5 separate regions of the Homo sapiens genome follow, and all the other regions are reported to be linked to region 1. Evidence: microRNA targets listed by miRTarBase, many of them from high-throughput screens and not tested one by one. Region 1 holds a microRNA gene; each other region holds the end of a gene's coding sequence.
What was found. Region 1 holds the annotated microRNA hsa-miR-5191 (AGGAUAGGAAGAAUGAAGUGCU, at 3,620-3,641, opposite strand). A microRNA usually pairs through its seed, bases 2 to 8, with sites in the 3' UTR of a target mRNA and lowers its output. Matches are read on the target gene's strand: a 7mer-m8 pairs with bases 2 to 8, a 7mer-A1 pairs with bases 2 to 7 and ends in A, and an 8mer does both.

Region 2: miRTarBase lists KLHL18 as a target of hsa-miR-5191. Seed matches in the 3' UTR shown: 7mer-m8 at 2,429-2,435.
Region 3: the mRNA of IRF2 is a reported target of hsa-miR-5191. Seed matches in the 3' UTR shown: 7mer-m8 at 3,998-4,004.
Region 4: the mRNA of BICRAL is a reported target of hsa-miR-5191. Seed matches in the 3' UTR shown: 7mer-m8 at 2,026-2,032.
Region 5: the mRNA of STYX is a reported target of hsa-miR-5191. Seed matches in the 3' UTR shown: 7mer-A1 at 3,125-3,131.

What each region holds. Positions count from the first base shown.
Region 1 is chr1:201,718,115-201,723,219 of GRCh38, reverse strand. It overlaps MIR5191 (microRNA 5191), which reads right to left and starts at 3,712; the gene lies at 3,593-3,712. It overlaps NAV1 (neuron navigator 1), which reads right to left. Exons shown (of 34, transcript NM_001389617.1): 7 at 4,465-4,830. The region is part of intron 2 of IPO9-AS1 (IPO9 antisense RNA 1); the gene reads left to right. It overlaps LOC124904483 (a long non-coding RNA gene), which reads left to right. Exons shown (of 2, transcript XR_007066790.1): 2 at 1-1,165. RefSeq lists an enhancer at 2,950-3,596.
Region 2 is chr3:47,343,041-47,348,145 of GRCh38, reverse strand. KLHL18 (kelch like family member 18) reads right to left here. Exons shown (of 10, transcript NM_025010.5): 10 at 1,330-4,591. The coding sequence ends at 4,205. Among named protein-coding and RNA genes, the nearest start is that of PTPN23, 35 kb to the left of the region's middle.
Region 3 is chr4:184,384,246-184,389,350 of GRCh38, forward strand. IRF2 (interferon regulatory factor 2) reads right to left here. Exons shown (of 9, transcript NM_002199.4): 9 at 3,484-4,821. The coding sequence ends at 4,513. Among named protein-coding and RNA genes, the nearest start is that of LINC02362, 4.5 kb to the left of the region's middle. RefSeq lists enhancers at 1-32, 1-609, 2,128-2,886, 4,892-5,105.
Region 4 is chr6:42,864,630-42,869,734 of GRCh38, reverse strand. BICRAL (BICRA like chromatin remodeling complex associated protein) reads right to left here. Exons shown (of 13, transcript NM_001393499.1): 13 at 1,179-5,076. The coding sequence ends at 4,289. Among named protein-coding and RNA genes, the nearest start is that of RPL7L1, 12 kb to the left of the region's middle.
Region 5 is chr14:52,770,080-52,775,184 of GRCh38, forward strand. STYX (serine/threonine/tyrosine interacting protein) reads left to right here. Exons shown (of 11, transcript NM_145251.4): 11 at 954-4,910. The coding sequence ends at 1,027. Among named protein-coding and RNA genes, the nearest start is that of GNPNAT1, 19 kb to the right of the region's middle.

The DNA.
Region 1 (5,105 bases):
AATAGCTAATAAGTACATAAAGCTGCTCCATATTACTAATCACTACAGAAATCAAAACCACAATGAGATAACCACTTCGCCTCCATCAGGATGGGTTTTTTCTTTTTTTGAGTTGGAGTCTCGCTCTGTCGCCCAGGCTGGAGTGCAGTGGTGCAATCTCGACTCTCTGCAACCTCCGCCTCCTGGGTTAAAGCAATTCTCCTGTGTCAGCCTCCCGAATAGCTGGTATTACAGGCACGCACCACCACGCCAGCTAGTTTTTGTAGTTTTGGTAGAGATGGGGTTTCACCCCACACCAGTTGGCCGGACTGGTCTCCAACTCCTGACCTCAAGTGATCTACCCAACCCAGCCTCCCAAAGTGCTGGGATTACAGGTGTGAGCCACCGCGCCTGGCCAGGATGGCTACTATAAATACAAACAAAACAGAAAATAGTAAATGTTGGGGAGAATTCGGAGAAATTAGAACCCTCATTCATTGCTGGTAGAAATATCAAATGGTGCAGCCATTGTGGAAAACGGTATGGTGGTTCCTCAAAACAAACAAACAAACAAACAAACAAAAAACACATAGAATTACCATATGATACAGCAATTCCATTTCCAGGTATATACCCAAAAAGAACCGAAAGCAGGGACTTGAATAATATTTGGACACTAATTTTCAGAGCAACATTCTTCACAATAGCCAAAAGGTGGTAACAACCCATGAACAGATGAATGGGTAAACAAAATGTGGCGTATACCTACAACAGAATAGAGTTCAACCTGAAAAAAGAATGAAATTCTAACGCTACAACATAAATGCTCCCTGATGACATTATGCTAAGTAAATAAGCCAGTCATTAAACAACAACAACAACAAAGACTGTATGATTCCACTTATATGGGTTACCTAGAGTAGTCAAATTCATAGAGACGAAAAGTAGAATGGTGGCTCCCAGGAGCTGAAGGGAGGAGGAAAGGGTAGCTACTGTTTAATGGGTACAGTTTCTCTTTGGGGAGAAGACAGAATTCTGGAGATGGACGTGATGATGGTTACACAGCAGTGTGAATGTACTGAATGCCACTAAACTGTACACTTTAAAATGGTTAACATAAAATGGTAAATTTTATGTTATATATATATAACCACAATTTTTAAAAATAAATCCTTTTTAAAAAACATGTATGATTATTCTGGTAGCAGCATCAGAGTCACTTTCTTCCTTCTAGTTTGCTGACTTCAGTTTGAAGAATTTGCCTTCTTTGGTTTGCTGACTAATGACCTGAAAGGGGCCTGGTCACTGGAGGGAGTAGGGAGAGCTGACTTGAGACTGAACAGGGGCTTGGGAAGAGCCGTCAAAGGGATGATCCCCCCGCAGATAAACAGAGTGTGGAGAAAGCGCCAGAATTACTGTCATCTTTTATGGCTCACTCGGATAGCTTGGAGCCGATTATGTCACCCAGTGGGGAAAGATCAGCTTTTCTGCTGGCCCAGTGCTGGGAGCTCTTGGGAGGTGGGAAAGTAAATTGCAGTGGGCCGAGGCTGATGGGTGGGCAGGGGTGTCGCAGTGTGGAGGGAAGCGCTGAAGCTATCCCTACAGGGAACAGTCCTACCCCTTTAATGACTAGAAAAACAGTTTTTTAAGAAATAGGACATTTTCTAAATTATAACATCTAGATGGAAACCACAGTGGGGATGAGAAGACCAACAGGAGGCTGAGCAACGACAGCTCAGGTTTGCATGTTCACTTAAAGAGTCGCTGGAATCCAGGTTGCCCTGTTACTAATTAAAACAACAACAACACTTAACCATGAAAACCCATAATCGAGGAGTGACTGTTTACATTAAATTACTGGGGATTATAAGTTGATTCCCTTCAACTCTGACTTCTCAGATGGCCATGTTTACAGTCCCAGCAGGGAAGTTAACAAACTCGTGTTAAGGGTTACTGCTAACTGAAGGTTGACCATAAAAAATGCATGTGAAATGATCTTGTAAACTAGCATCACAGTTTACAGGAAGGTCCACTTTATGGATATTGCCATGCCAACAATTGATTCTGTGTTCCCCATGCAAACTCCAGGCTTCCCAAGGCTTACAGCTGGGGGCTGTGCAGGGAAGGCAAGTTCTTATTCATGCTAGTCTCGGTGAACTCTAATTTTTAAAAAATGGATTCGGGAACACACATCCTGTCCAGAGGAAGGAGGATAAAGCAAGGGTGTTAGAGGGGGGATAAAGGGGGTCTTTCCTACCCTTTCCCCCTGCATTCCATGCCCCCACAGCCTATTATCTATGCCCCTGGGATTGACCAGCTGCTACTAGATCTGTCTTTGCTGCTGATGCTGAGTAAGTGGGACTCTGGTCAGACTACACACCCCTGACGGTAAGAATCATGTCTCTCCATCAGTCTGGGACTCTAATAACAACAAAAATAATATAGCAACAAAAATAATAGCTATCATTTAGTGAGCATTTACAATGAGCCAGGAATTATTCTAAGTACTTTACATATATTAACCCATTGAATCCTCATCAGAACCCTGAGATAAGTTCTACTGTTATCTGCATTTGACAGATAGACAAATGAAAGAAAGCCTGGGGAGGTGAACCAGTTTGCTCAAGCTCATACAGCTAGTTAAGAGCCGGAAGTCCTGCCACCTTCCTCAGACTGCGACGTCTCCAAGCAGGGCTCCTGTACCTTGCAACACTTGGGGTATTTTCTGCCATGGCCATCAGGTGGGTTGGTGGGGTGAAGGGCTCTCAGAGGGATCTCGTTTCCATCAGTTTGGGAGCTGTGCTGGGCAGGGGCCCCGTCACCTCCATCAATCTGGGAGCTGTGCTGGGCAGGGGTCCTATCACTTCCCCTGTCTGGAAGCTCCCTAGGGTCTAGGGCTATGGTTCTTCTAACACATGGGGGACTTTCTAAAGACTCAGCCCCGCAGGGCTTGTGCCACCCTCTGCACCCTCCTGGGATTCTCAGAGGAGGGCAGTGACCTGACACTTCCTCAGGCAGTCCCTGGCAGCTTCCTAGGGCAGAGGCTGTGTGGAGCAGCTCCTCACACACCTTGGCTCTCCTTCCTGCCCAGCACAGGCCTCTGACCACAGAAGGAGCTCAGGATCTGTGCACTGCATGGCTTTTCTCTGGTCCCAGCTCCAGGCTGGTGGATCTGAGCGTGAGCGCGAGGTTGGGCTGGCCCCTGGGATTTAACAGGCAGTAAACAACTCCATTCATGCGTCAGTTGTTTTGCTCCAGAGCAGCCTCATCAGCTGGACAAGCCCTAACCAGATCCCTCCAAGTTCTCTGCAGGGGTGGAGATGGGGGTGGGGAACAGTGGATGGCCTGGAGCTTGGCTCTCGTCTTTTCCGAGGAGAGGCTACTTTCCACTCCCTTGAAGTCTGGGATTTTTATTGGGGAGAGGCAGGCCCTGGCAGTAAGATATTAAGTCCCTGAGAAGGAAGGGAAGGGATGCTGCTGCTACTTGTATGGCCCCTTGGCGGAGGAGGGCACCAGCAAACCAAGAAGGGAGAGTGAAAGTGGCAGTAGGCTAAGAGGTGCTCCAGAGAAGCTTCCAGAACCACTGCCTCTCTCCTGTCTCTGGGCTTGGAAGAGTTGGCCAGGATCCCCCTAAGCGCCCAGCACTTCATTCTTCCTATCCTCTCTTCTATCCTCCCAGACCAGGAGAGGACAGCAAGAATGAAGTGCTGGGGGCTTGGGGTCCTGGCCAACTCTTCCAAGGTTGGAAGGCATAGGCACAACTCTGTCAATTAAGGCAGAAAAATATAAGAAGATGAGGGTCCCTGCAGGGCAAAAGGCAGGAAAGAAGGATTTGACACGCTGGGTAGGGATTAGGAAGTTGCATGATTGGTAGAAGGTTTGCACAGGAAGAAACCCAAGGAGCAGACACTGAGGACCACAGGGGTCGGATAGGGAACTGAGGGGTTACGAACCCCTGGCAAAGGAAGTGGAGCTACTGCTGCTACTCACTGTTTGACTAGCGATTTCACCCACAAGCTCTCATTTTCTCTTCTTAGGTAGACAGATACGATGTTAATAACCTTTTTGGTTTTTTTTTTTTTTGCAAATGGGAAAGCAGATTTAGTTGTCCAGGGTCTACACAGAGTTCGCATAAGAGCTGGGAATAAAATGCTTTTCCAAGGCTCTTTGAGCCAGTTTATTGAGGGCAAAGAGCCAGGGAGGAGGGTGACAGAATGACAGCCACAGAGACCAATGAGAGGGAGGCGCCTTCATTGACCAATCAGCTCCTTGGATGTAGGCCCTGCCTACACCACACCCAAGTCTAGAATAAACCACATCGAATTTCAGAGGCAATCACAAAGTGTACACAGCACACTTTTGTGTACTTTCATAGCAGCACAGCAAACCAAAACCCGTTTTGGGTTCCACTCCACTTTTAAGGCGTCGCATCCCAGTGGTCTTTCCACCATCCTCCCCCGCCATCCAAGAAGCCCCTGCGCTTACCCGGTAGTGATGTCATCATCCTCCGTCATGGTCTTGCCCATGAGGTCACTGTCGCTCATGTAGCCGGACTTGAGGTCCACCTCATCCGAGTCCAGGGATTCGACCAGCTCCAGGCGGGAGATATGGCTGAGCTTGCTGGGGCTGCGCATGGGCATGGTGTGGGAGTAGTGGGCCCGTTCGCCGTGCATGTACCAGGCGGGCGTCCCCTCCGAGCGGCAGCTCCCACCCACAGAGGGCGCGTCACCAGCCTGCAGCCGCGGACTGGACTGGCCATAGCGCCATGACAGAGGGGACGAGCGGTTGGAGAGGCTGGACACGCTGCGTGGGTTGGCATCATCGCTGTCGTAGCAGGTCATCTCCAGGGAGCTGGGTGGAGAGCAGAAGGCACTACTTAGTCCTTGGCACAGCCGCCGTGTGCCCTGTCCCCTCACATGCACCCCAGCAATGCCTCCCCTCCACCCACAGGCCCTGTCACCTCCTCCCCACCTGCCCAAGCTCCACCTCCTCCATGAGGCCTCTGGTTGTGTGTTACCTTTGTGATACGTTATCTGTTTGACAAAGGAAATGATCTTAATTAAGTGGCTAGGGAAGAAATCCTGTATACTGTTAAGACCCTAGATTGTGTAATATGACCTAGGTTT
Region 2 (5,105 bases), not on the chromosome of region 1:
TGGGGTGAAATGGAGTGGGCTCTGCTGTTGGTCATGAGGGGGAAAGGAGTCCAAATAACAAAAACAAAGAAAGAAAGAAAAAAGAAATGGAAAGTCAAGCAGATGAATCCAGTTTGACTTAGCAGTCCACTCTTCACCTATGGGGCTCTTTGGCTCTGGTCAAGGGGGCATAGATTACATGGAAAGGGCTGCTACTACTTTACAAGCAACAGGCCTTTCTCCCAGAGGGCAGAGTTCCCAGATAGTCTGGCTATCTCTTTCAGCATGAAGGCACCTGCTTCTTCACTCTTCCCCTTGCTGCCCAGTCTGCTTTTCCAAGGTCTATGACTGTTGGGAGGAATGCTGCTCCCTTCACAGGTGGAAGACACTGCTGTCCTTAGGCAGACTGGACTGTGAGTGTGGAGATCTGGTCTCAATTTCTCACAATGCCACTGGTTAGCTGGAGTCAGGTCAATTACTTGGCCATTCTGAGGCAGTTTCCTTATGCTAAAATGTTACCTGCTCCGTGGGGATTACTGAGGACCATGTGAGATTCAACTGATAAGAGTGTTTATATGTAAGACATGTCCTGGTGGGGTGTGTGTGGGAGTGATATGCCTTCCAAAAACTTAAAAAAATTAAGTTGCCATCCAGGAGTCCAATGGACAAGATTGATCACAAGCTGACTTTTGGAAAAGTGTGACTGAAGAGTTTCCCAACAGGCAAAACCACACTAACCACAGTGTAATCTTGGAAGAGCAGATCTGGAATGCGGCTGTATTTGGGGAAGTGAAACTGAAGATGGGAGTATAGTTCTCACACTGAAGAGCATGCAAATCACCAAGGAAACTTGCTCACGCCAGAATGCTGAGCTGCACCCCAGCCCTAGGGAACCTGTCTCTAGAGAGGGACTTAGGAACGGATCTGTGGTTTAAACATTTTCCAGTGACTTTTATGTGCACCAAAGTTAAAGCACCTCTCGCCTAGAGCATAAAAAAGGAGCTGGAGATGCTGATTCCAGGCAGTCAACAGGCAGCCACATTCCACTGGGAAACTCTGGAGTTTTAGGGCAGTGAATGGAGAAAAGGGGAAATCCGAGAGTAGGGGCGATCAGGACAGGCACCAATATGCAGTCCCAAAGTGCAAATGAAGTCTTTGCATATTTTTCACCAGAAGTGACTCTCATAAAATAAATCTCTCCAAAGACTACTTTTGCTGTACATCTGGCTTTTCCCTTATATTCACAGAAATATTCCCATTTTGTCCAATATATTTTTTTCAGTGAATCACAATTAAAAAACAAACATGTACTTCTAATATCTGAGAAATAAACCAAGAAAGGACAAGAGCTATTAGGAGTGTTCTCTTTATTTCTCTTTGGTTTCTTAACACAAAAGACATGCATTCTATAAATAAAAGGAACTAAGATTTTCTGGGAAACCATAAATTGGGAGGAATTCCCACAGTCACACCTCTGTGGTCAAGAGGATGGTCTTCAGCCCCCATCTGGCTGTAATCTCTGATGAAATCCAGAAGAGAAGGCCCGTGTGTTATCCAAGAAGGTGAAACACTCAAGGACAGTGAATGCCACAGTCCTCTGCTCAGAGCTGGGCTAGGCCCCAAGGCCCACTGAGTACAATGTCTACCCTATCTCCTTGTTACATCCTTTTTACAATATCCTTGGGTGATGCTTCTTTTCATGGGGCTATTGGAAAGGCTCCAACACCAAAGAGCCAGACCAGCCATTTACGAATAGCCATTCACCATCGGACTGAGGAACCTACTGGGAGAGTGTGAATATGTTGGTGTTTCCTGACTTGTGCTCAGAGCCCAGATCAAAACACTGGCTTGATCTTACTTTGAAACATCGACCTCAGGTGCAGCAGTGTAAATTCTACACCAGGAGGTGGGATTGGACTCAGGAAGTCCACTACAAGAGCAGCAGGCCATGGTAGAAAATGATCTGCCATACCCAGTGGCAAAATCTGGGCCAGTATCCTAAGGACCCACTCAGTAGCCCACAGACCGATTCTTAATACCTTCACAATCCAGGCTTGTTGGTGCTACTTCAAATTCACAAAAGAAAGGGGCTTATAATAAGACAAGCACTGATACACTCCTAACAGGAAATGCACACCCCACCCACCTTCCGAGTCTACCCCTACAGGCAAACCAGGAAGGAGGGAGAAATGCTGGAGCCCTACCACGAGCCCAGGTTAAACGACATCCGATATCAGATTGTTGAGACGTTAAAAATAAAAATATCATTTTCAAGTGCTTGTAGCAGAGGCCTAGCTCCTAAGTTGTAGGTAACAAAGGTACTTCCCTCTGAATACATGGCGATTGCACACACTGGTAAACCTGACGGTCCTGGGGTGGGGGAGACACCCCAGGCTCCACATTGTGCCTTTCTGAACAGGCTTCCAGGCCACCCCAGGCAGGCAGCAAAGGATAGGAAACCAAGCAGGTGGAGACTGGAGCCCTAAGACTCAGTCTTGGGTTACAGGAATTGAATCTTCTTTTAGTCTCTACTGGAAGAATTTTAGAAAACCAATTTTGGCAGCAGCAGTTGAAGGACAGCCCCACTGCCCAGTGCACTGGCAAGAGAAAATGTCCTCCTCTTTGAGTCCCGCTGTGCTACATTAGGTCCTATCCAGGGAGGAGGAAGCAATATGAAATCTTTCCAAAAGGTAAAGGTCATTTGCCAAGATTAGAGGAAGAAATATAAAATCTGTTCTTTGCAGCAGCAAGAGATTCTTTCGGCCTTTAGTTCTTTATGTCATAAAAGCCAGCTGTGCTTGAATGTAAAGGTCCACCTTGCTGGTCAGTCTGCCCAGGGCTGGAGGGAGGCCAGACTCTTGGGATTGGCGAGTGGATGGAGGAGCAGTGGAATGGCAGAGCAGACAAGGTTACCAGACCAAGCCCGCCCACAGCTGGTAGAAGGAAGCCCTGGTTAGGTTCTAGAGGTGCATATGGTCAACGTGCCCCAGAAGCATCACAATGAGGGAAATCATCCAAGAACGAGATTGATGGGCAAGTGAGAATCTGGCCAGACCTGCTGTTTCCTGCTGGTCAAAAAAGGAAGCAATGTTAGTGAGAGTGGGGAATCTGAATGAGCGCCATGGTGGCAGTAGGAGGTAATCACAGGGGCGCCTGGAGCCCCCAGCCACAGCTAGGAGCCCCCACCAAGAAGAGTGGCAGTAATTCAGCAGATAGCCTAACTCTCTACGCCTATGATTTTAAAAGTCCTCTGATGGTGGGTGAGAAGACAAACCCCATGAGCACCTTACTACAGGCCCAGTCAAGAGTGCACTGATTCCACACACACTGGGGCTCAGAGGGAACCCCCAGCTCAATGCGAGGCCTCAGGACCCTGGGATCCGAATGTGGGGTGGATACCGCCCTTCTCCAGTTAGACGATTTTCCATTTAAACATAGATTTGCCGTTAGTGTCTTTTATGCTTTTTTCTTCTTGCAAAATTTGTTCACATAAAAAAATTATTTTTCTTTCCAGTTTCTTTCAAGTGTTTCTTTGTTTAAATTTCCTTCAGTTTCTTTCAAGTATCTTTTTTTCCCTTCTGTTCTCCTGGACAGATCAAAAGGCCTCACTGAAATCCCAAAATTAGACATGGGGAAAACTTCTCTTCTCCCTGCTTACCCAGCAATGAGGACAGAATCCTTGGTGCCCCACTGTGGAAGAAGGAATGTGCCTGTGTGCAGCCTTCCACTGCTGTGGCCACACCATCTCAGGCAGGGAGAACGCTTGGGTCTGTCCTTTCGTCCCCAGCTACATCCCAGTTTCCAGCAGGCTTGGACACTGCAGCCTCCCCATGGCAAATTGGCCAGACTCGGCTGGAGAGCAAGCAGGCGATGGGGAGCATCAGATGGAAGGCCTTCTGTGAACAGCTGGCCCACAGAGAGGCGGTGGGTAGGAGCTGGGCCTGGATGGAGCCTGTGTTCATGTGGACCAGAAAACAGTTCCATGTCACCAGCTGCAGGATCCAGAGGAGCTTGTGTTCCATGCTGTGCATCTTGATGACCCAAGCCTGAAGGTCACAAGGGTGGCACAGTGGGGGAGGGCTTAAGCACCTGGAAAAACTGTACCTCCGGCGAGCTCACGTTTCGCCATCTCTTCTGGTCCACTGCCTCTCCTGAGGGACTGTTCCTGGAAGGAAGCGCCTATGTCTGTACCAGATCCCTGCCCCACCACATCCCATCCTCTGCCTTAGATGGTGAGGAGAGGGATGCAGCCCACACCGACCCCTCCCTCATGGCACGCCATGGGGGCCATGAATGTCCAGCAGTCTGTCTCTGGGTCATACATCTCCACTGAGCTTAGGTTTGACTGTCCGTCGTAGCCCCCAACAGCGTAGAGGCGCCCACAGCTGGCCACCAGGGAGACCCGGCTCCTGCGCGTGTGCATGGGGACAATCAGGCACCACTGGTCTGCCACAGAGCTGTACATCTCGGCAATGCTGAGGAAGCCAGAGCCATCGTAGCCCCCGCAGACAAACATCTTGCTCCCCAGGGAGGCGGCTCCGTGCCGGCAGCGCTTGTTGAGCATGCCAGCTGCAGGGTGCCAGGTGGCTGTGTGGTGGTTGTAGTGTTCCACCTGCAGTGGGGAGAGAGGCACAGGTACAGGACAGTCAGAGGCAAAGCTCAGTCCATGGAGTGACCGTGCAGGGCACAGCAGCCCCCCATGATGTCAAACTCCTGTGGGAGGTATGGGGACAAGGAGCTCTCCCAGTATTCCCTCTGCTGCAGGCCTGCTCTTTGGTGTATGGGGACAGGGAGAGGTCACCTCACCTAACCCTTTCTGTTTGCATCTAAGGAAACAAAAAGGATGTGCCCAAGGATGCAATGCTAGGTAGTGACAGAACCTGTATGAGAGCTGGGTCTCCTGTAATCTCCAGGGCTCTCCACTGCAGCACTGACTGACTATGGAATGACTAGTAAATGGCTGTTGAGCCTTTTTTACAGAATAAATACAATTTCAAACAAATTATCCAAAAGAATACAACTGTTTGCAAATTTACACTTGGTCTATAACTGAACTTACTTTGGGCAGGAATCTCACAAGTTCTATGTAGTGTTCAACAGACAGTAGAACAGGGTGGTGGCTGCAG
Region 3 (5,105 bases), not on the chromosome of region 1:
GCTTACAGGAACAGAAGCACACACACTGCTTTTCTTCTGAAGAAACTTGGTCAGACTCCAGAGCAGGCTGTTTTCAGACTATGTGAACTCTGAAATGTGCTACATCTTGATCCTTCCACGGCACAACCCGGGTTCTTGGATAGACTTAACATTTTTGCTAAAACCAGCTATTAGGCCTGACCACTTCCTTCCTTCCAGGCACTATTTTCGGAAGCAGAGACACAGTGCCTCTGCACCTGTTGTTCGTGTGGCCACAGAAGCAAACCTCTACAAAACCCTCATTTGTCTGCACAGCAGGACCAGTGATGCCCAAGCCCAGACAGGGAATGGGGGTGGTACCAGTGTCCCATGGGGCCAGTGGGGACCCAGAGGCCAGACAGCCTCACGAAAAAGCATCTCCCCCTGACTCCTGCCAGCTTCCTGCATCTCCTGACCTGAAGCTTCGCACGGCCGGGCTCTCCTCTCCAGGCCTGTGGTTGGACACATTCCTAAGGGGGTGAAGCCAACAGTCCCAGCCCTGTTCTTTTGACACCGGGATGGTGGGGCTCTGGGGAGGAGGAGATCCCAGGGATGACAGCCTAGTAGTACCCAACCTTGATTCACATGCTGGGGTGCAAATGAGTGAGAAGCAGCCTCAAGAAGCTGATGGTGTCACCCAACTGCCCTTGGGAGGGGTCCACTGCAGCCTGGGGACAGAGGGAGGTCAGAGTCACGTCCCACCTGCTCTGATAACTCTGGCCCCAGGCACGTCATTGTACTGTGGGATGGAGTTTCAGGGTGAGGTAGGCGGCTGAACGGCACCATGTAAAAACCAGTTTGTGCCTCCAAACCAAACTGGCACTCAGACATTAGCTGTTTGACCCCTGAATGCCAATGAACTCATCTTGGCTACCTGTGTGTAAACCTTTCCCTAGCTTTTGTCTTTTATCAGGAGAAATCTGGCAGAATAGTGGGGGTTCTTTTTTTTTTAACCTTTTATCTGGGCTTATTTGTCCAAAACTACAATAGCAGGGGGCCTTTAAAGCCTAATGAACGCAGGTTACAGAGTGGCCTCAAGCAGAAGGAACGTCTCATGTTCCATCTCTCTGAATTAGGGGCAGGAGGCCAGCTGGGGCTTACCATCTTTCCATTCACATGCAAAGCACTTCCAAAAGCACAAGTTTGAAAACTCAGACTCCTGAAATCAAATCACTCATCTCCTTCACTTCTAAAATCTCTGTCTCAGTAGTGGTTACATGATAGTACGGTACACTTGGGATTTGGGTGGGGAAAGGGTATTGTTTTAGGGTTTTGATGTCCAAAGAATTTGTATTCCATAGCCATGTGTATTTCTTTTTTACAAATCCTTTGAAATAGACTAAATACCACCTTTGGCAGTGGTTCATCAAAACACGGACAAAACAGTACGGTTGAGGGTGGATTTATTTAGATGTGCAAATGGCATTCCAGAAGCCCCTTTCATCGAGGTGTGTGGATGTGCTGGGTGCTTGCAACCTCAAGGCTGGGCAGAAATACATGTCCCTGAATTCACAGTTCACAGCTGTACAGTGAGCCCATTATCAAGGGAGTGACCCAGGTACTGGCTGCAGAGAATGGAAACTATTGTTCCAAAGGCAGTTACACTGAACTTGAACTTGCTATTAAACGCATACGTGCACACACACACCCAAGCCCATCATCAAAGCCTATCAGCTCACACAAATACCAACCAGAAGCATGCGTCCCTGGCACTTCCTCTAAGTGACGACAAGGTCTGAGGCTTGGGTCCAGGAGCTGCCCCAATGCCTTTGTTTTCCTTCCCCATGTCAACCCCAGGCATCCTGAGACTAGCTTGTTTTCCTGCGTTGCTGGCAAGTATCACTTAGAAACAATACAGGCTTTCTCAGAAGGATTTTAAACATGATTCTGTTTTTCATGGCCTTATTGGCAATGGAGTATCATCTCTGGAACTTAAATGGTGCATTTCCAAGTCCTGAATTTTCTTCCACTTGATGGGCCTTGGGAAGTCTAGTTACGCTACAGAAGCAAGGGGAGGGCAGCAGGAATGGCATTCGGGACCGAGATGCAGGAAGAAGCCCTGAGTCTGTGTTGGGAAGAAGGAAGGGGGAGGAGACCTGAGCTACCTTAAACCCTTTGATAACCAGGCCACGTGACTCAGGGCAACCTTCCGTTGCTGTTTTGTTAATTTATTTAAAATAGGATGACTCAGTAAAACATTTTAGATGTAAGTCTCAAAGAACTGAACTTCTCCATTCAGGACCTGGGGGAAGAGCAGGTCTTAACTGAAAAGTCGGGTGCCAAGGAGCCAGGGAGCATCTGTTTCTTCCTGATAACTCCCCTTCCACTGAGAAACTGAGACAGTCAACGAAAGTGCTCCTTCCAGAAGCAGCCCCGCCTCTGTGTGTGGCATTTCAACTACAACGCATCCGCCAGGAAAATGCTCCAGTTGATTTCCATTCAGGGCTGGATAACTTTATGACCGCTAATTATATCTGCAGCCACACATGGAGATAGGCATAAAAATAGCCTTTTGTCCTTTCATTAAAGGAACCTCTTCAAATATTAACTTAGCAATCTCCTCCACAACCCCCCAGAGGTAGTAGGCGGGTAGCAAAGTTTTCATATTCTGATTTTACAGAGTAAGATACTGGGGATGCAGGGGAGGCTGGTGCTGTGGCTTTCTCCAGGCCAAGACTATACCTTCAAACACCAAGTGGCTGATAAAGACTGGTGTTCTTGAAGTCACCCCTTTTATTCCACAAGACAGACCCCAAGTTTTGAGGGCACGGTCTATGTGTAAGGCCTCGGGTCCTAGAAAGACGAGTGACGGACATGGTGTTAGAGCCCAATACATATTTCCTGTTGTGGAAAATGTCTTATCCATGCACCCCTCTAAGTGACATAAACACAAGACGTTTGTCGTACGTGTAAGCCTAAGGATGAAAACAGGAAAGACACAGAGTGGGGTGAACCTTGCTCACAGCAGAGAAGGAAACCAGTGGCGTGGCTAAAATACTCCCCCTCCACAGGGAATGCTCCCAACACAGAGGAAGACAGACATTTGAGATAACGGATATGCTTACAAGAAAAAAGACCCCCTTCATAGCACAGAGAATTGGGCTCAACTTGTGCCCAACTTGTGCCCTTGCCTCTTAGTGCCACTATGAGCCAAGTAAAGGCATCTTCACATTCAGTCTTCATTTCCTCCACATGAAATGGAGATGAATGCCTATTCTACAGCACAAGTGTGATGAATGAAGACGGGAAGTCATGCAAAACGCTCAGCACGGGCCCCTGCTCAGGCGAGCACTCAAGAGAAGAAGTCAACTGAAGCCTCACAGTAAGAACCTCCACGGTTTCTTGTGGTCAACAAGGGAAAACATTTTGGTCCCCAAAAAGAAACAATCCTTTGTCAGTCCTATTCCGTGATTATGCTCTTTTAAAGCAGACACAGACAAAGCCAGGAGTGATGCCCCTTAAAAATTTAACTATATATCATATTCATTTATTATCAATCCACAGGAAAATCTGATTGCTACATGAGCTCATAAAAGCTTTTTTCACCTTTACAAAATTAAAAAAAAAAATGTGCCACAAGGATGTAATAACAACTGCTGATAAACAAGAAAAGGAATCTTAAAATTATAAATTTGCTGTAGAAAAGATAAAAAACAATTATATTTTATTTAGAATTTTACCTTGAATAAAATATTCCCCTGTATAAAAAATAAAAAAGCTTGCTCTGGTTAGAATTAGAGTATTTTTGTCTTCAAATCTGGGAATTTGCATAATATTTCCATGATACTTTTTCCTTTGTACCGCGTGGCATTCAAGCATAGCAGATTAGAAGGATTTTTTTTAAAGCAGTCTGAAAATGGGACATCTGTAGAGAAATTCATTTCCTTCTTCTCCTCCGGATGTGGAATGGAAGCTTTGAGGGAAGGAAAAGTAGGAAAAGAGCGGGATGGGATGGGATGGGATGGGATGGGATGGGATGGGATAGGAAGAGAGGCTGGGGAATGGGCAGAGAAGGGGGTGCTGAGTGTGCTGTGAGATAGAGCAAGATCACAAGAAGGCCTATCTGTAAGTGCTTTAAGATAAGGTGCAGAAGCAGACTGCAATGTCGCTAGTGCTGCCTATGTACATATTCACAAGAATAAAAAATTCCAGCTAGTTCACATTATCTCGTCCGTTCTGAGGCATCCACTCCACCTTGCTGGCCTTGACCGCAGGCAATGCAGCACCTCCACTGCCCTTGTTGGTCCTTGAACTTGAGTGAGTAGCCCTGGGAGATCCAGCAGGCTCTAGAAACACACGTCTACCAATGGGCTGGAGTCCTGAGTTAAAGAGAAGCTCCAGTACTGGAGTTGGACACAGCAATCAATGTTCTATTGTCAAGGCTTTTTCCCTTAGATTTGTCTAAAATAGGTGTCAGAGAGAAAAAAATAAAATACAAACAAACAACAAAACAAAGCCAAGAAGCCCCAACAACCACCGCGGAGAGTCAGAGGCTTAACAGCTCTTGACGCGGGCCTGGGTGATATCCGATGTTTTCTTGATGACGCTGGCCCGGGTCTCCCGGTCTGGCCGACTGCTGCTGGATGCTGGGGTCATGGAGGAAGAAAGGGGGAGGTCTTGAAAAGGGGGCCAGGAGCTGTTGTAAGGCACCGGATTGCTCTCCTCTTTGATGGTGACCTGGAGGTCCGGTTTGTTGGAAGTGACGAAGGACGCCATGCCGGGCAGCAGGTAGGAGCCTCGAGTCCCCATGTTGCTGAGGTACTGTTTGCCTTCAATATTCCTCTTCCGCCAGTGTGGCCGCCCCTTTCAAGAAAGTAATTAAGATATGTATTTCCTTCTCCTTCTATTGGATGGCTTTTTAAAAATGCATCACTGGCCAGGTGTGGTGGCTCATGCCTGTAATCCCAGCACTTTGGGAGGCTGAGGCTGGAGGATCACTTAACCTCAGGAGTTTGAGACCAGCCTGGGCAATGTAGCGAGTCCTCATCTCTACAAAACGTAAGAATTAGCTAGGCATGGTGGTGCACACCTTTAGCCCCAGCAACTCGGGAGGCTGAGGCGGGAGGATCACTGGAGCGCAGTAAGTC
Region 4 (5,105 bases), not on the chromosome of region 1:
TTGTAAATGGCCTGAAGAGGGACAAAAATGTCATTCTGGACACACATTTATCCTTAGCAAGAAGAGAAACTTGACATTAGGGTAACACTATACATGACATCAGTGGATAGATCCCTTCATATCATTCTGTTAGTTATTTGAAAATGACTTTCTTTGTTGCCTTTTAATCTTTTTAGAAAATGACTTTCTATTTATGTACTGATTACTGCTGAATCTTGATTTTCTACTGCTCTTAGGGCACAGGGGAGAATCTAATTAAACCATAAATGAGTACAAGTGTAAATTCTAGGCCCTAAAGAACAATTTGTTCCCAGAAATACATTTCACCTCTAGAAGCTTCCCTAACAATTTGGGTGGAAAAACACTTGTGAGGGCAGGAATTCAAAAGGGCCTCATGGGGCTGATTTTACACATAAGGTTATAGAGTTATTTTTTAATACAAAATTTGGTCCAATATGTTGAATCCAAAGAGAAACGTTAATTCTGGAATATCTCTTATGTAAAATCATTTATCACTTAGCTTTTTCCTTGTCCTTGCAGAAACAAAATAAACATAACTGAAGAAAATCTCCTAGGCCGGGCACAGTGGCTCACGCCTGTAATCCCAGCACTTTGGGAGGCCGAGGCAGGTGGATCACAAGGTCAGGAGATCGAGACCATCGTCTCTACTAAAAATACAAAAAATTAGCTAGGCGCAGTGGCGGGCGCCTGTGGTCCCAGCTGCTAGGGAGGCTGAGGCAGGAGAATGGCGTGAACCTGGGAGGTGGAGCTTGCAGTCAGCGGAGATTGTGTGCCACTGCACTCTAGCCTGGGGGACAGAGCAAGACTCCACCTCAAAATAAAATAAAATAAAATAAAATCTCCTGCAGAGTGAGGCTCACTTACCTGACTTTTCACATGACCCCCACTTTTCCTTCCATAGCTAAGGACCTATGTGGCAGGAGTAGGGATGGAGGCCAAAGGTGTACAGGACCAAACCTCCTCACTGACCAGCTTCATTAATTTGTAACTGTTTGGAAAGGCCAATCAATTAAAATCCTATCCCTTCCCTGACTGGGGTAAATTGATTTTGGTATTGGTAAATCTATTAAAATAGAATTCCCATTGAACACTTACCCTTTTCTTCTGGGAAAAGTAGCCATTCCTATTTGCAAAATCAAGACAATCACAGTTGCACATTTTCCCAAATCTTTGGCTGTATTGCAATGGTTGTTTCAATTTGTAATCTCCAACTAAACATTTCCTAACCATGGATTAACAATATAGTTACTGACTGGTTTCTTTTAACAGTATTTATCCAACATAACAAAATAAACTGCAATTTGTTATAGTTTTTTTTTTTTTACAAAACATTTTATAAATATTTTTACAAAATGTATACAAAGCAATTTCAAGTGAGACGTACTATACAAATGAAGGTATTTAAGCAAATAAAGCCCACACCACACTGACAGCGAGTGACGCGTCCTCTTTAAGTAAAGTCAGTCTGTAAGGCCTCCCTAATCTAACAGAATCTACTAAATCCTTCAGAGCTAAAATATTTCTTTTTCATAATTGCCAGATTAAAATTTTGCTTCATCTTCAGGAAGTACTTAAGGACACAGAAAATCAAATGCTTAATAACAAATTCACGCTTTTCCACAACAGAAAAAAAAAAAAAAAAAGAAAATGATTTTTGTTACTGAGTACAAATAGTTCTAAAACTTAACTTTGACGAATGAACCTGAACAACTGAATGTTGGCCATCCGAGGCTGAGCTCTCCTACCCTTCACTAGAGGGGGCTCGACATGCGAGTTATGACCCATGTGCGTAGAACCTAATCACAGGAGTGAAATACATGTCATAATCTTCATTTGTCATTATCTAGAATCCTTCCTCCATAAAAAGTAAACTTACATACAATGACACAAAAATTTACAAGTTTCATTTTGGTAAATTAGGCTCTCCATTTGCTAGACAAGTGTTAGGGCTTAAAAACCCTTTAGGATGGTATATAGAAAAGCTAGGATTGGGACAGCAGGGCAGGATAGGGAAGAAAGAGAGGTGACAAATGTACATGAAGCTTATCTTGTCTCTTGAGAATTCCACTGATTTGCAGTAATTAATGTAACTCACTAGCAGCCCACATGAAGGCTTCCAGGGATAAAGTTCTGCAATGAGAAGAATTTGATTAGGAAGGATCATCTTGCTAGGAATTAGGGGAGCATGAGCCCCAAGGGAAGAAAAGCCTATGAAATCATGGAGTTTAGGGCAGGGTGTTACCCTAGGACTACCCAAACAGAAAGTACCAACTGGCGACACCAACTTATCTAATATGTTACAATACAGGAAAAAGGGGAAATCTGCAACTTGGACATTGGCACAAATAAGGAAAAAATGGTAACCCTAAAATGGGCCAGATTTTCCAATTTGTATTGGCTGGGGCATGTGGCTGGGGTGAAGGTACGTTGCTATTATGAAGACTGGCCATCTCACAGGGTTTTCTGTGTGTAGTGGGACACAGGGGCACCGGGGTATAGGTCTTCTGTTGCTGTGTTTTCTAATTAGAAGCCTTCCTTTCCATCACAGGCCAATCTGGAAAAGAAATGCCCAACATGATGACAATGGGGGTCATCCCCATGTTGGCGACAGCCAGAAGCAGATTCTGGCAACACATTAAAGTGAAGACCAGTGGCTGCACCTCCAGAGCCAGGGAGATAAACAGAATAAATGAGAGAGTATGCACACTAAGAAGGAGAGTGAGTGTGCACACACTGTAACAAAAATGACCTCTGGATCCGAGCAGCTCAGATACATGCACGTGTGTGTATGTGTGGGAGAAGAGTGCATAAAAATACTATCATGTAGCTTTCCCAATGAGAGGAGATAAGTGATGGTTACAATGACATTAAGAATAAAGGTAACAACAGAAATGGGATAACCTGGGGCAGGTATACGAGAAAGGAAAACGGAGAATACTCCCTGACAAGAAATAAAAATAAATAAAGCAGTAAGCCATGCTCACTAATATGAACACAGGCCAAACAGAAACCATGACAGGGCATATCCTTTGGCTCTCAAATGGGAATCCCATGTCTCAGATCTTTCCTTTCAGTGGTGGGCTAGCTGGTTACCTTTGGTTTGTCTGTGTTTTGGTAATGAATTGCTGCCAGGGGTCACTACTGTTCTCAGACAAGAAGCATAAACAAGGCCAGAGTCTCCTTAAAGTTTAAACTGAAAAATTACAACATAATAATTTTCAAATGAAAGTGCTTTTGATGCTTGGTATTTGTTGTGGGAGAGGGTGCAAAGAGAGGTTAAATGAAACAAAATCCAGCAACAAACAAAAACATACATTATATGTTGACTATATCCAATTATAAAATGCAAAACTTGTTTTTTCTCAATAGTTAACATATATATGCTTTTACATATATACATATTAATATTATAACCCTCATGGCTCTATCCCGGCCTCCTCTGTACACTGTGCCTCTTAACTGGTTTCCATTTTCCTTTATTTAGCCTGGTGAAATTATTTCAAATTTTGCTGCTGTAACTAAGAACAGAACATTCCCTAGGTGAAATTCAACATAGATATGCCTAAAAGCATGAGGTTTTGCTCCGGAAGCATCAGAAAAGCACTTGAACCATCAATAGGGAAGCCCTGCAATGCCCTGCGTATGTGCTACTGGCTTTTCCACCAGGGCTGCGGGTCCCTGGCAGCACAGCCAGCAATTTACTGCTCAAAGATGGCTGAGGGGGAAGAACCATGTGGTCTTCCCCTCAACAATAACAACAAAACACACACAAAAAAACTCAAAATAATAATAATAAAAAAACCCAAAACTAAATTTGCAGATGCAGTGGGATATTCTTTAAAAAGTAGCTTCTATCCGTCTCGTTTGATTTTAGTAAGTCTGTTCTTTTCAAATGACTTATGATTGTCAAAATTTTACCAAGGGCCAAGTATACTGTGGTCTCATTGAGTTACAGTGTTTTTAAAAAACAAAACAAATAAACAAAATGCCTATAAGCACTTTCATAACACTTGAAATGAGTGGGGCCTATCAGACTGCTTTCTGCCAAGGATTAATTTTACTAAAGGATCTCCCTGTAATCACGACAAGTATTGCTCTTAAACAAAGAACAGGATTGAGATTAGAAAGAATAACCTGTGATGAAAGATCAAGCAGGCTGGAGACAGGAGACCATTTCCATTTGCTTTTGCCAGGAACGAATGTAACTGGTCCGGGGTGGGGTCTCGGGGTGGGGTCTCGGGGCGGGGTAGGGGGAGGACTGCTGCTATTAACACTCTAGGATACTATTTACAGCTGCTTCTAAAATGGAGTCAGTTTCTACAACACCTTCACTGTGGTCCGGGATGAACTTTTCCAGGCAGTTTTCCTGTGAAGCCATAGGAGAAAAGTTGGGGAAATCTAACTCAACAGAGCCGCTAACCGTGGGGTCACTCTGGGGCTGCCGTCCCGCCTTTTTGAGTTCCAAGATGTTCTTAAATGTGGTTTCCAAGCTCTTTGTCAGCTGGAGATCTGGCTGGGGTTCGCCTGACCCTTTCATGATGTCTGTGTGTAAAACTTCATTCTTTGGAGAATTCCTCAGACTTTTGTCCTGGAAGGAATTGTTACACGTCATCTCCAAGTGCGAATCTGCTAGGATGCTTGACAGTTTGCTCTCAGTACCATGATCCGATCTGGATGAGGTTTTCCGGTGCCCCTCAGGGCCGGGAGAGCACTGACTGGCCTTCAGAGGCTCTCTCCGGCTGGCCTTCTCTTCAGACGTGCTCTGGTACTGCACTAAGCCCACTTTGTCAAATTTCAGTGCTCTGCCAAGGCATTCTGTTTTTTTAGAAATGTTTCCTTCTGCAGAGACCACGATGTGATTAGGCACTAGATGAAACTGGTCATGATTCATGGGTTCCGTCACACCGGTTTTGGCTCGGTCTCTGCCTTGGGCCTTGGCTGGCGGTTGCAGAGAGCTGCTTGCTTTACTGCCATGCTGGTCACTCCGGCCAAACTGTGTCTCATGAGCAGCTTTATCAAGTTTGAAGGAACAACAGAAATCAGCCTGAAAACCCTCTGGAAATGGGAACAAAAAGAACATTAGT
Region 5 (5,105 bases), not on the chromosome of region 1:
AGGAAGACATGATGATTAATGCACTCTTCCTTTAACCCCTAGTCATTTGGAGTTCCCATAGAAGCACAGCACTTCATCTGAAACTTAATCACAGTATCTGGGTTTAGCCTGAGGGCTAGGATATTTTATCTCATTCAATTGTATTGATACTATATTTTTATCTTTATGAATTTTATAGTGAAACATTCTTCAATTAGAATATGCCCTCTGAATTAACATTATTATTACCATGATATAACAGTCCTGTAGGGCATAAGTTTAAGGTCATGCCATTGTTAGGCAAAAAACACAGCAGACCCTCTGCTGGTTTAACTGTTCCCTAAAGTTTTCCTCCATTGAGAGTCTAATTTCTTGATTATAACTTTTGGGGATACAGAGATAGCTTTGATTCTATGTGGGAGATTTCTGTACTAGCAGATGCTGGTATGAAGAATAGATAAAAGAAAATCTCTTTATATGCTACATGCCTTCCTTTCTCCCAACCTAGACTTCGATAGCTTGAGTGGAAAAATATTTTCAGCTGCTCTTCATAACAGCCTCTGTGAAAGCAAAAAGATTATCTACAAAAAATTATACAAATACAAGATTAATTTCCTAAATTTTATGCCCTAAGTCACATGTTTATGGTGCCTAAAAAACAATTAACTTGATAACTAAACATTTATGTATTATCTCTTGAAAAGGTCTATTTTCACACTATTTCAAAAATTATTTATTTTATATGCAATACCTAAGACATAATACTTGAGAAGGAAAATATATCCTGTCATGAAGATTAAAAAGTTATAATATTTAGGTAATTTATCACAAAGGAATTTACTAAATTTTGCTATATCAGTTGTGGAATTTTCATAGTGTATACATGATCACTTAATAACAAAATTTTACTTGCTGTAACCTTTTAACATGAATTTATTTTAGTGCCCTTTTAATCTTCATGCAATAACTTTTAGGCAGTTTGAAGAGAACACATGAAGAAGAGGATGATTTTGGAACCATGCAAGTGGCGACTGCACAGAATGGCTGACTTGAAGAGCAACATCATAGAGTGTGAATTTCTATTTGGGAAGGAGAAAATACAAGAGAAAATTATAATGTAAAATGGTAAAAACATAAGTAGTTTTTTTTTCAATTACATGTTGCTTCCAGACATACTTCTCTGCAACTTGTTGAGCAACATTTTAAGATGTTGGACTTCTGCAATAGATGACACTGATGGTTTTACTCCTTTTTTTAAAAACACATGCGCGCGCACACACACATGCTTTACAAGTTTTATTATAAACCAAGAATTTTGGACTTGCAAAGAGGTATTATTGCAATAATGCACTTTTCATACTTGAAATTTATTTGTATGATATAAAGTTATTACTTTAAACAAAATGCAAGTATGGGGGGATTGTTTATAAAGTTTGGGTAATTTATAACAAAATTTGCTAAGGTTTGCTAAAAATTCATTTTTCTGTTCTATATATTACATTTTTAACATAATTTTACAGTTCAATTTTATGATGGAGCCTCTTACAGAAACATTAACAAAATGCAGGAATCTGCCACATTTCTTTTTTAGTATAACTTAATAGCTTAATTACCATTTTATTTTTTATACTTCTTCCATTATTAATCTTTAAATCATGATCCTAATTAGCTGTCCTTACTTTAACTTGATCTAATTATTGCTTCCTTTCTTATTACTTTCCTAATTTTTCTATATTTTAAAAACTACAGTTTCCATGATAAAAGGAAAACGTTTTGATTTATAGTACCAAGTGCTTAAACACAAGGATAGTGTTAGATTTTCGAGTGACTTTCCTTTTTGCATTTTTTGGCAGTAAAAGCCAAACGTTGTATTTGTTCTTTTCAGAGTTGTCCAGCCCTTTTTTCCTTTGTCCAAAATGATTCTAAATAGAATCTAATAAACCAATGTAGCATTATTTTTTTCTAAATGAAGCCCCAAAAAAGAAAAGTGCCTTGCATCATTTAAAAAAAATAATTAAATCCTCATGGCCTCTAAATTAGTATGTAGAACACTGAAAAGTTCTTAACATTTTTGTGTAATTTCCTTTCTTTTTAAACCATAAATTAGTTTAAACTGAAAGTACGAGGCTGGAAGAAATATTAGTAAATTATTTGGAATATAGAATGTTTACTCTTTCTTTTTATGTTGTCTTAATGATTCTGTGAGATTGTTCCGGCTCAAACAGAAGCTTTTCTTTGGGGAAGGTGATTTGTGGGAGACTAGTGTATTTTAAATTAGCATTTTAATCCATTCTTGACATTCAGTTAGTCCAGATCTGCCCCATAATTTGCTTTAGTAAAGTCACTTTATGGATTTTTGGCTATGTTTTAGTTTGTGTGTATAAAAGTTCTAAGAAAACATTTTTGCTATTTTAAGTATGTAAGGGAAGAGAGGAGTGTTTTTAACTTTTTATAGTTGATGACTTTAGGGTAGCACAAACAAAACTCCTTTGTATCTAACTTTTCTCAATCCTCTCTTGAGGTGCTTTACTAATGGGAATGATTTCTGTATGTTCCCTTGGTACCAAGAGGTACTATGCAAAGTAACCTATTACACCAAGTTACTTGCTTTGCTTTCCTCTCTATGATGTGATAATACAGTAAAAGCTTTCTTACCCAGCATAGTGGGAGAGTGGAGATTAATTAAAATTGTTAATTAAGAGTTAATTCCTATTGACCCAGGTGATATTTCTCTTCTGATTTCCCTCCCCTTCCCTTCTCTTATCTTACCACTGTGAAAACAGCATATTGTTAATCTCGTTGTCGTCCAGTATTCTGCTTTGTGATTAGGTCTTTTGATGTACAGTGGTCTAGTGGAGTCAAGATTCGCATTGGGTTTTCTAAAATTCCAGTTGATAAAAGTTCCAGATAACACAGCTTTCCTGTATATAGATCACTATTGGGCAGGTCAGCAAAGATCTCTTACAGTGTAATAATAATCTATGATGCTTCATTTAGCAGAAACTCTGCTTAAAAGAATCTTCATAATAGTAAGTTTAGGTTTTAAAAACTTGTTTCATAAATATACATATATCCTCTCTAGTAGTCTGGCCAAAAGAACAGATTTTGTTATTGATAATTTGTAGCTGGTAATTTTCCACATTTTCTATCCACTGTAATTTTTATGTTGTCACTGAAGTGCCTGCCCAGTACTGTATATTACAGTCTCTCACAAACACTGGGAAAAGGGACTGTCATCATCTTGAGTACTCTGTGTGTATATATATATATATAGATAGATAGATTTTTTTTTTTTTTTGAGACAGAGTCTCTAATGTCACCCAGGCTGGAGTACAGTGGCACAATCTTGGCTCACTGCAACCTCCACCTCCTGGGTTCAAGTGATTTTCCTGCCTCAGCCTCCCAAGTAGCTGGGGTTAGAGGCACATGCCACCATGCCTGGCTAATTTTTGTAGTTTTAGTAGAGATGGGGTTTCACCATGTTGGCCAGGCTGGTCTCAAACTCCTGACCTCAAGTGATCCACCCACCTCGGCCTCCCAAAGTGCTGGGATTACAGGCGTGAGCCACTGCGCCTGGCTGAGTACAATATTAATGTAGACAAACCATGAAGTTTATTATTTCATATAAGAACATTACAGGTTTGTTTTTTCTTGCATGTCTGTCCACCTAATGTTTAAGTAGTTCTGGTAGCTCTTCCTATTCTTTATTCTATTTGATTCCATTTCTGTGATTCTTTTATTACCACTGATGTTTTGTGATAGTTAACTATGATAAATTTAACTGATCATGATTTATCTTCTAGAGTATTTAAATAATGTATGAGTGACCACCCAATTCCAACATTAAAAGTGTAATCTGGGCCCATAATTTATAGTGAAATTGTATCAAAACATAGGGAAACTGTATTACTGTCCATTTTGAAAATATGAAACTTGAGTATTGAAAATATTCAAACATGGAATGGCAGTATTCTAATTTCAGTTAGTTGGTTCATGTTAATTTCTTACCTGTTAGATGTTTAAACTGCAGTGACCTTTACTTGTATCTACTCTGTGGTGGAAATGTTAAACCATGATAGCTTTTGCTACCAACTCAACCACTTAACTTTTAGAGCAGTTTTGGGGAGAGTTTATGCTTCATCTGAGTTTAGAAGTAATGTCAGAAAATGTTAAGCATGTCTGTATTAAGAAAATATAAGGTTTCTAATTGTCTTATTAATATGGTAATTCAAGTGAATTAGAAATATTTAACTGCAATCTTGAATTATAAAGTTGAGATATATATATATATGTATCAAGATCTCAACTTGATGTAAAGTAAATGAGCAGTTACCTGGCGGATTTTTTTTTTTTTAAATAACTGATTTAATCCATAATCCCATAACAAACATAGCTTCACCTCAGTATTTTCTTTCTTTCTTTGTTCAACAGTGCTCCGATAAGGGAATGCTAGAAAATAGATGAGAAGTACTGAAAGACCTTTTTTTTTAATTGATTAGAAAAGTAAGTCTCTAGGGTCTTTGAATGCTGGAATTTTTTTTTTTTTTTTTGTCTTTCCCATCTGTGGCAGCTAAAACAAAAATCACTCAAAATATTCAGGTTTACATGTTAGCTCTCTCTCATAGGGAGCTGCCATACCTCACAGTTCAAAGTGTATTCTATAGATCAGTAACATTATACTGACATGTAATTGCAATTTACTATGCAGCAAAAATGATTCAAGAAGAAAAATAACCTACAGTGTCTGTATACCTTTGTATACACAATTGCTTAAGTTACTCTGCTTTTAACATTTGTACTTGGATAAAATGCTTATGTCTGTATAGGAATGTCACAGTGCAAGATGCTGCTAGCCCAGGCACAAAGTATTAAAATTATTTTGTGAAGATTGGTGGTTGTATTAAAACTGCTGTGCCATTATACCTCCAAAATATTGAAAAGCTCATTCATACTGCTGCTTATACCTCAAAACTTCTTTACTTAGATTGTTATCTGCTGGGTAAAAGTAACCCAAATTTACTCTGAGTTAAGAAGAGTGGATGAACATTGAATGTTGAGAAGCACTTAAGAGTATACTCTAAAACACTGTGGTTACACACACACACAAAATTATGGTCTGTAGTCCA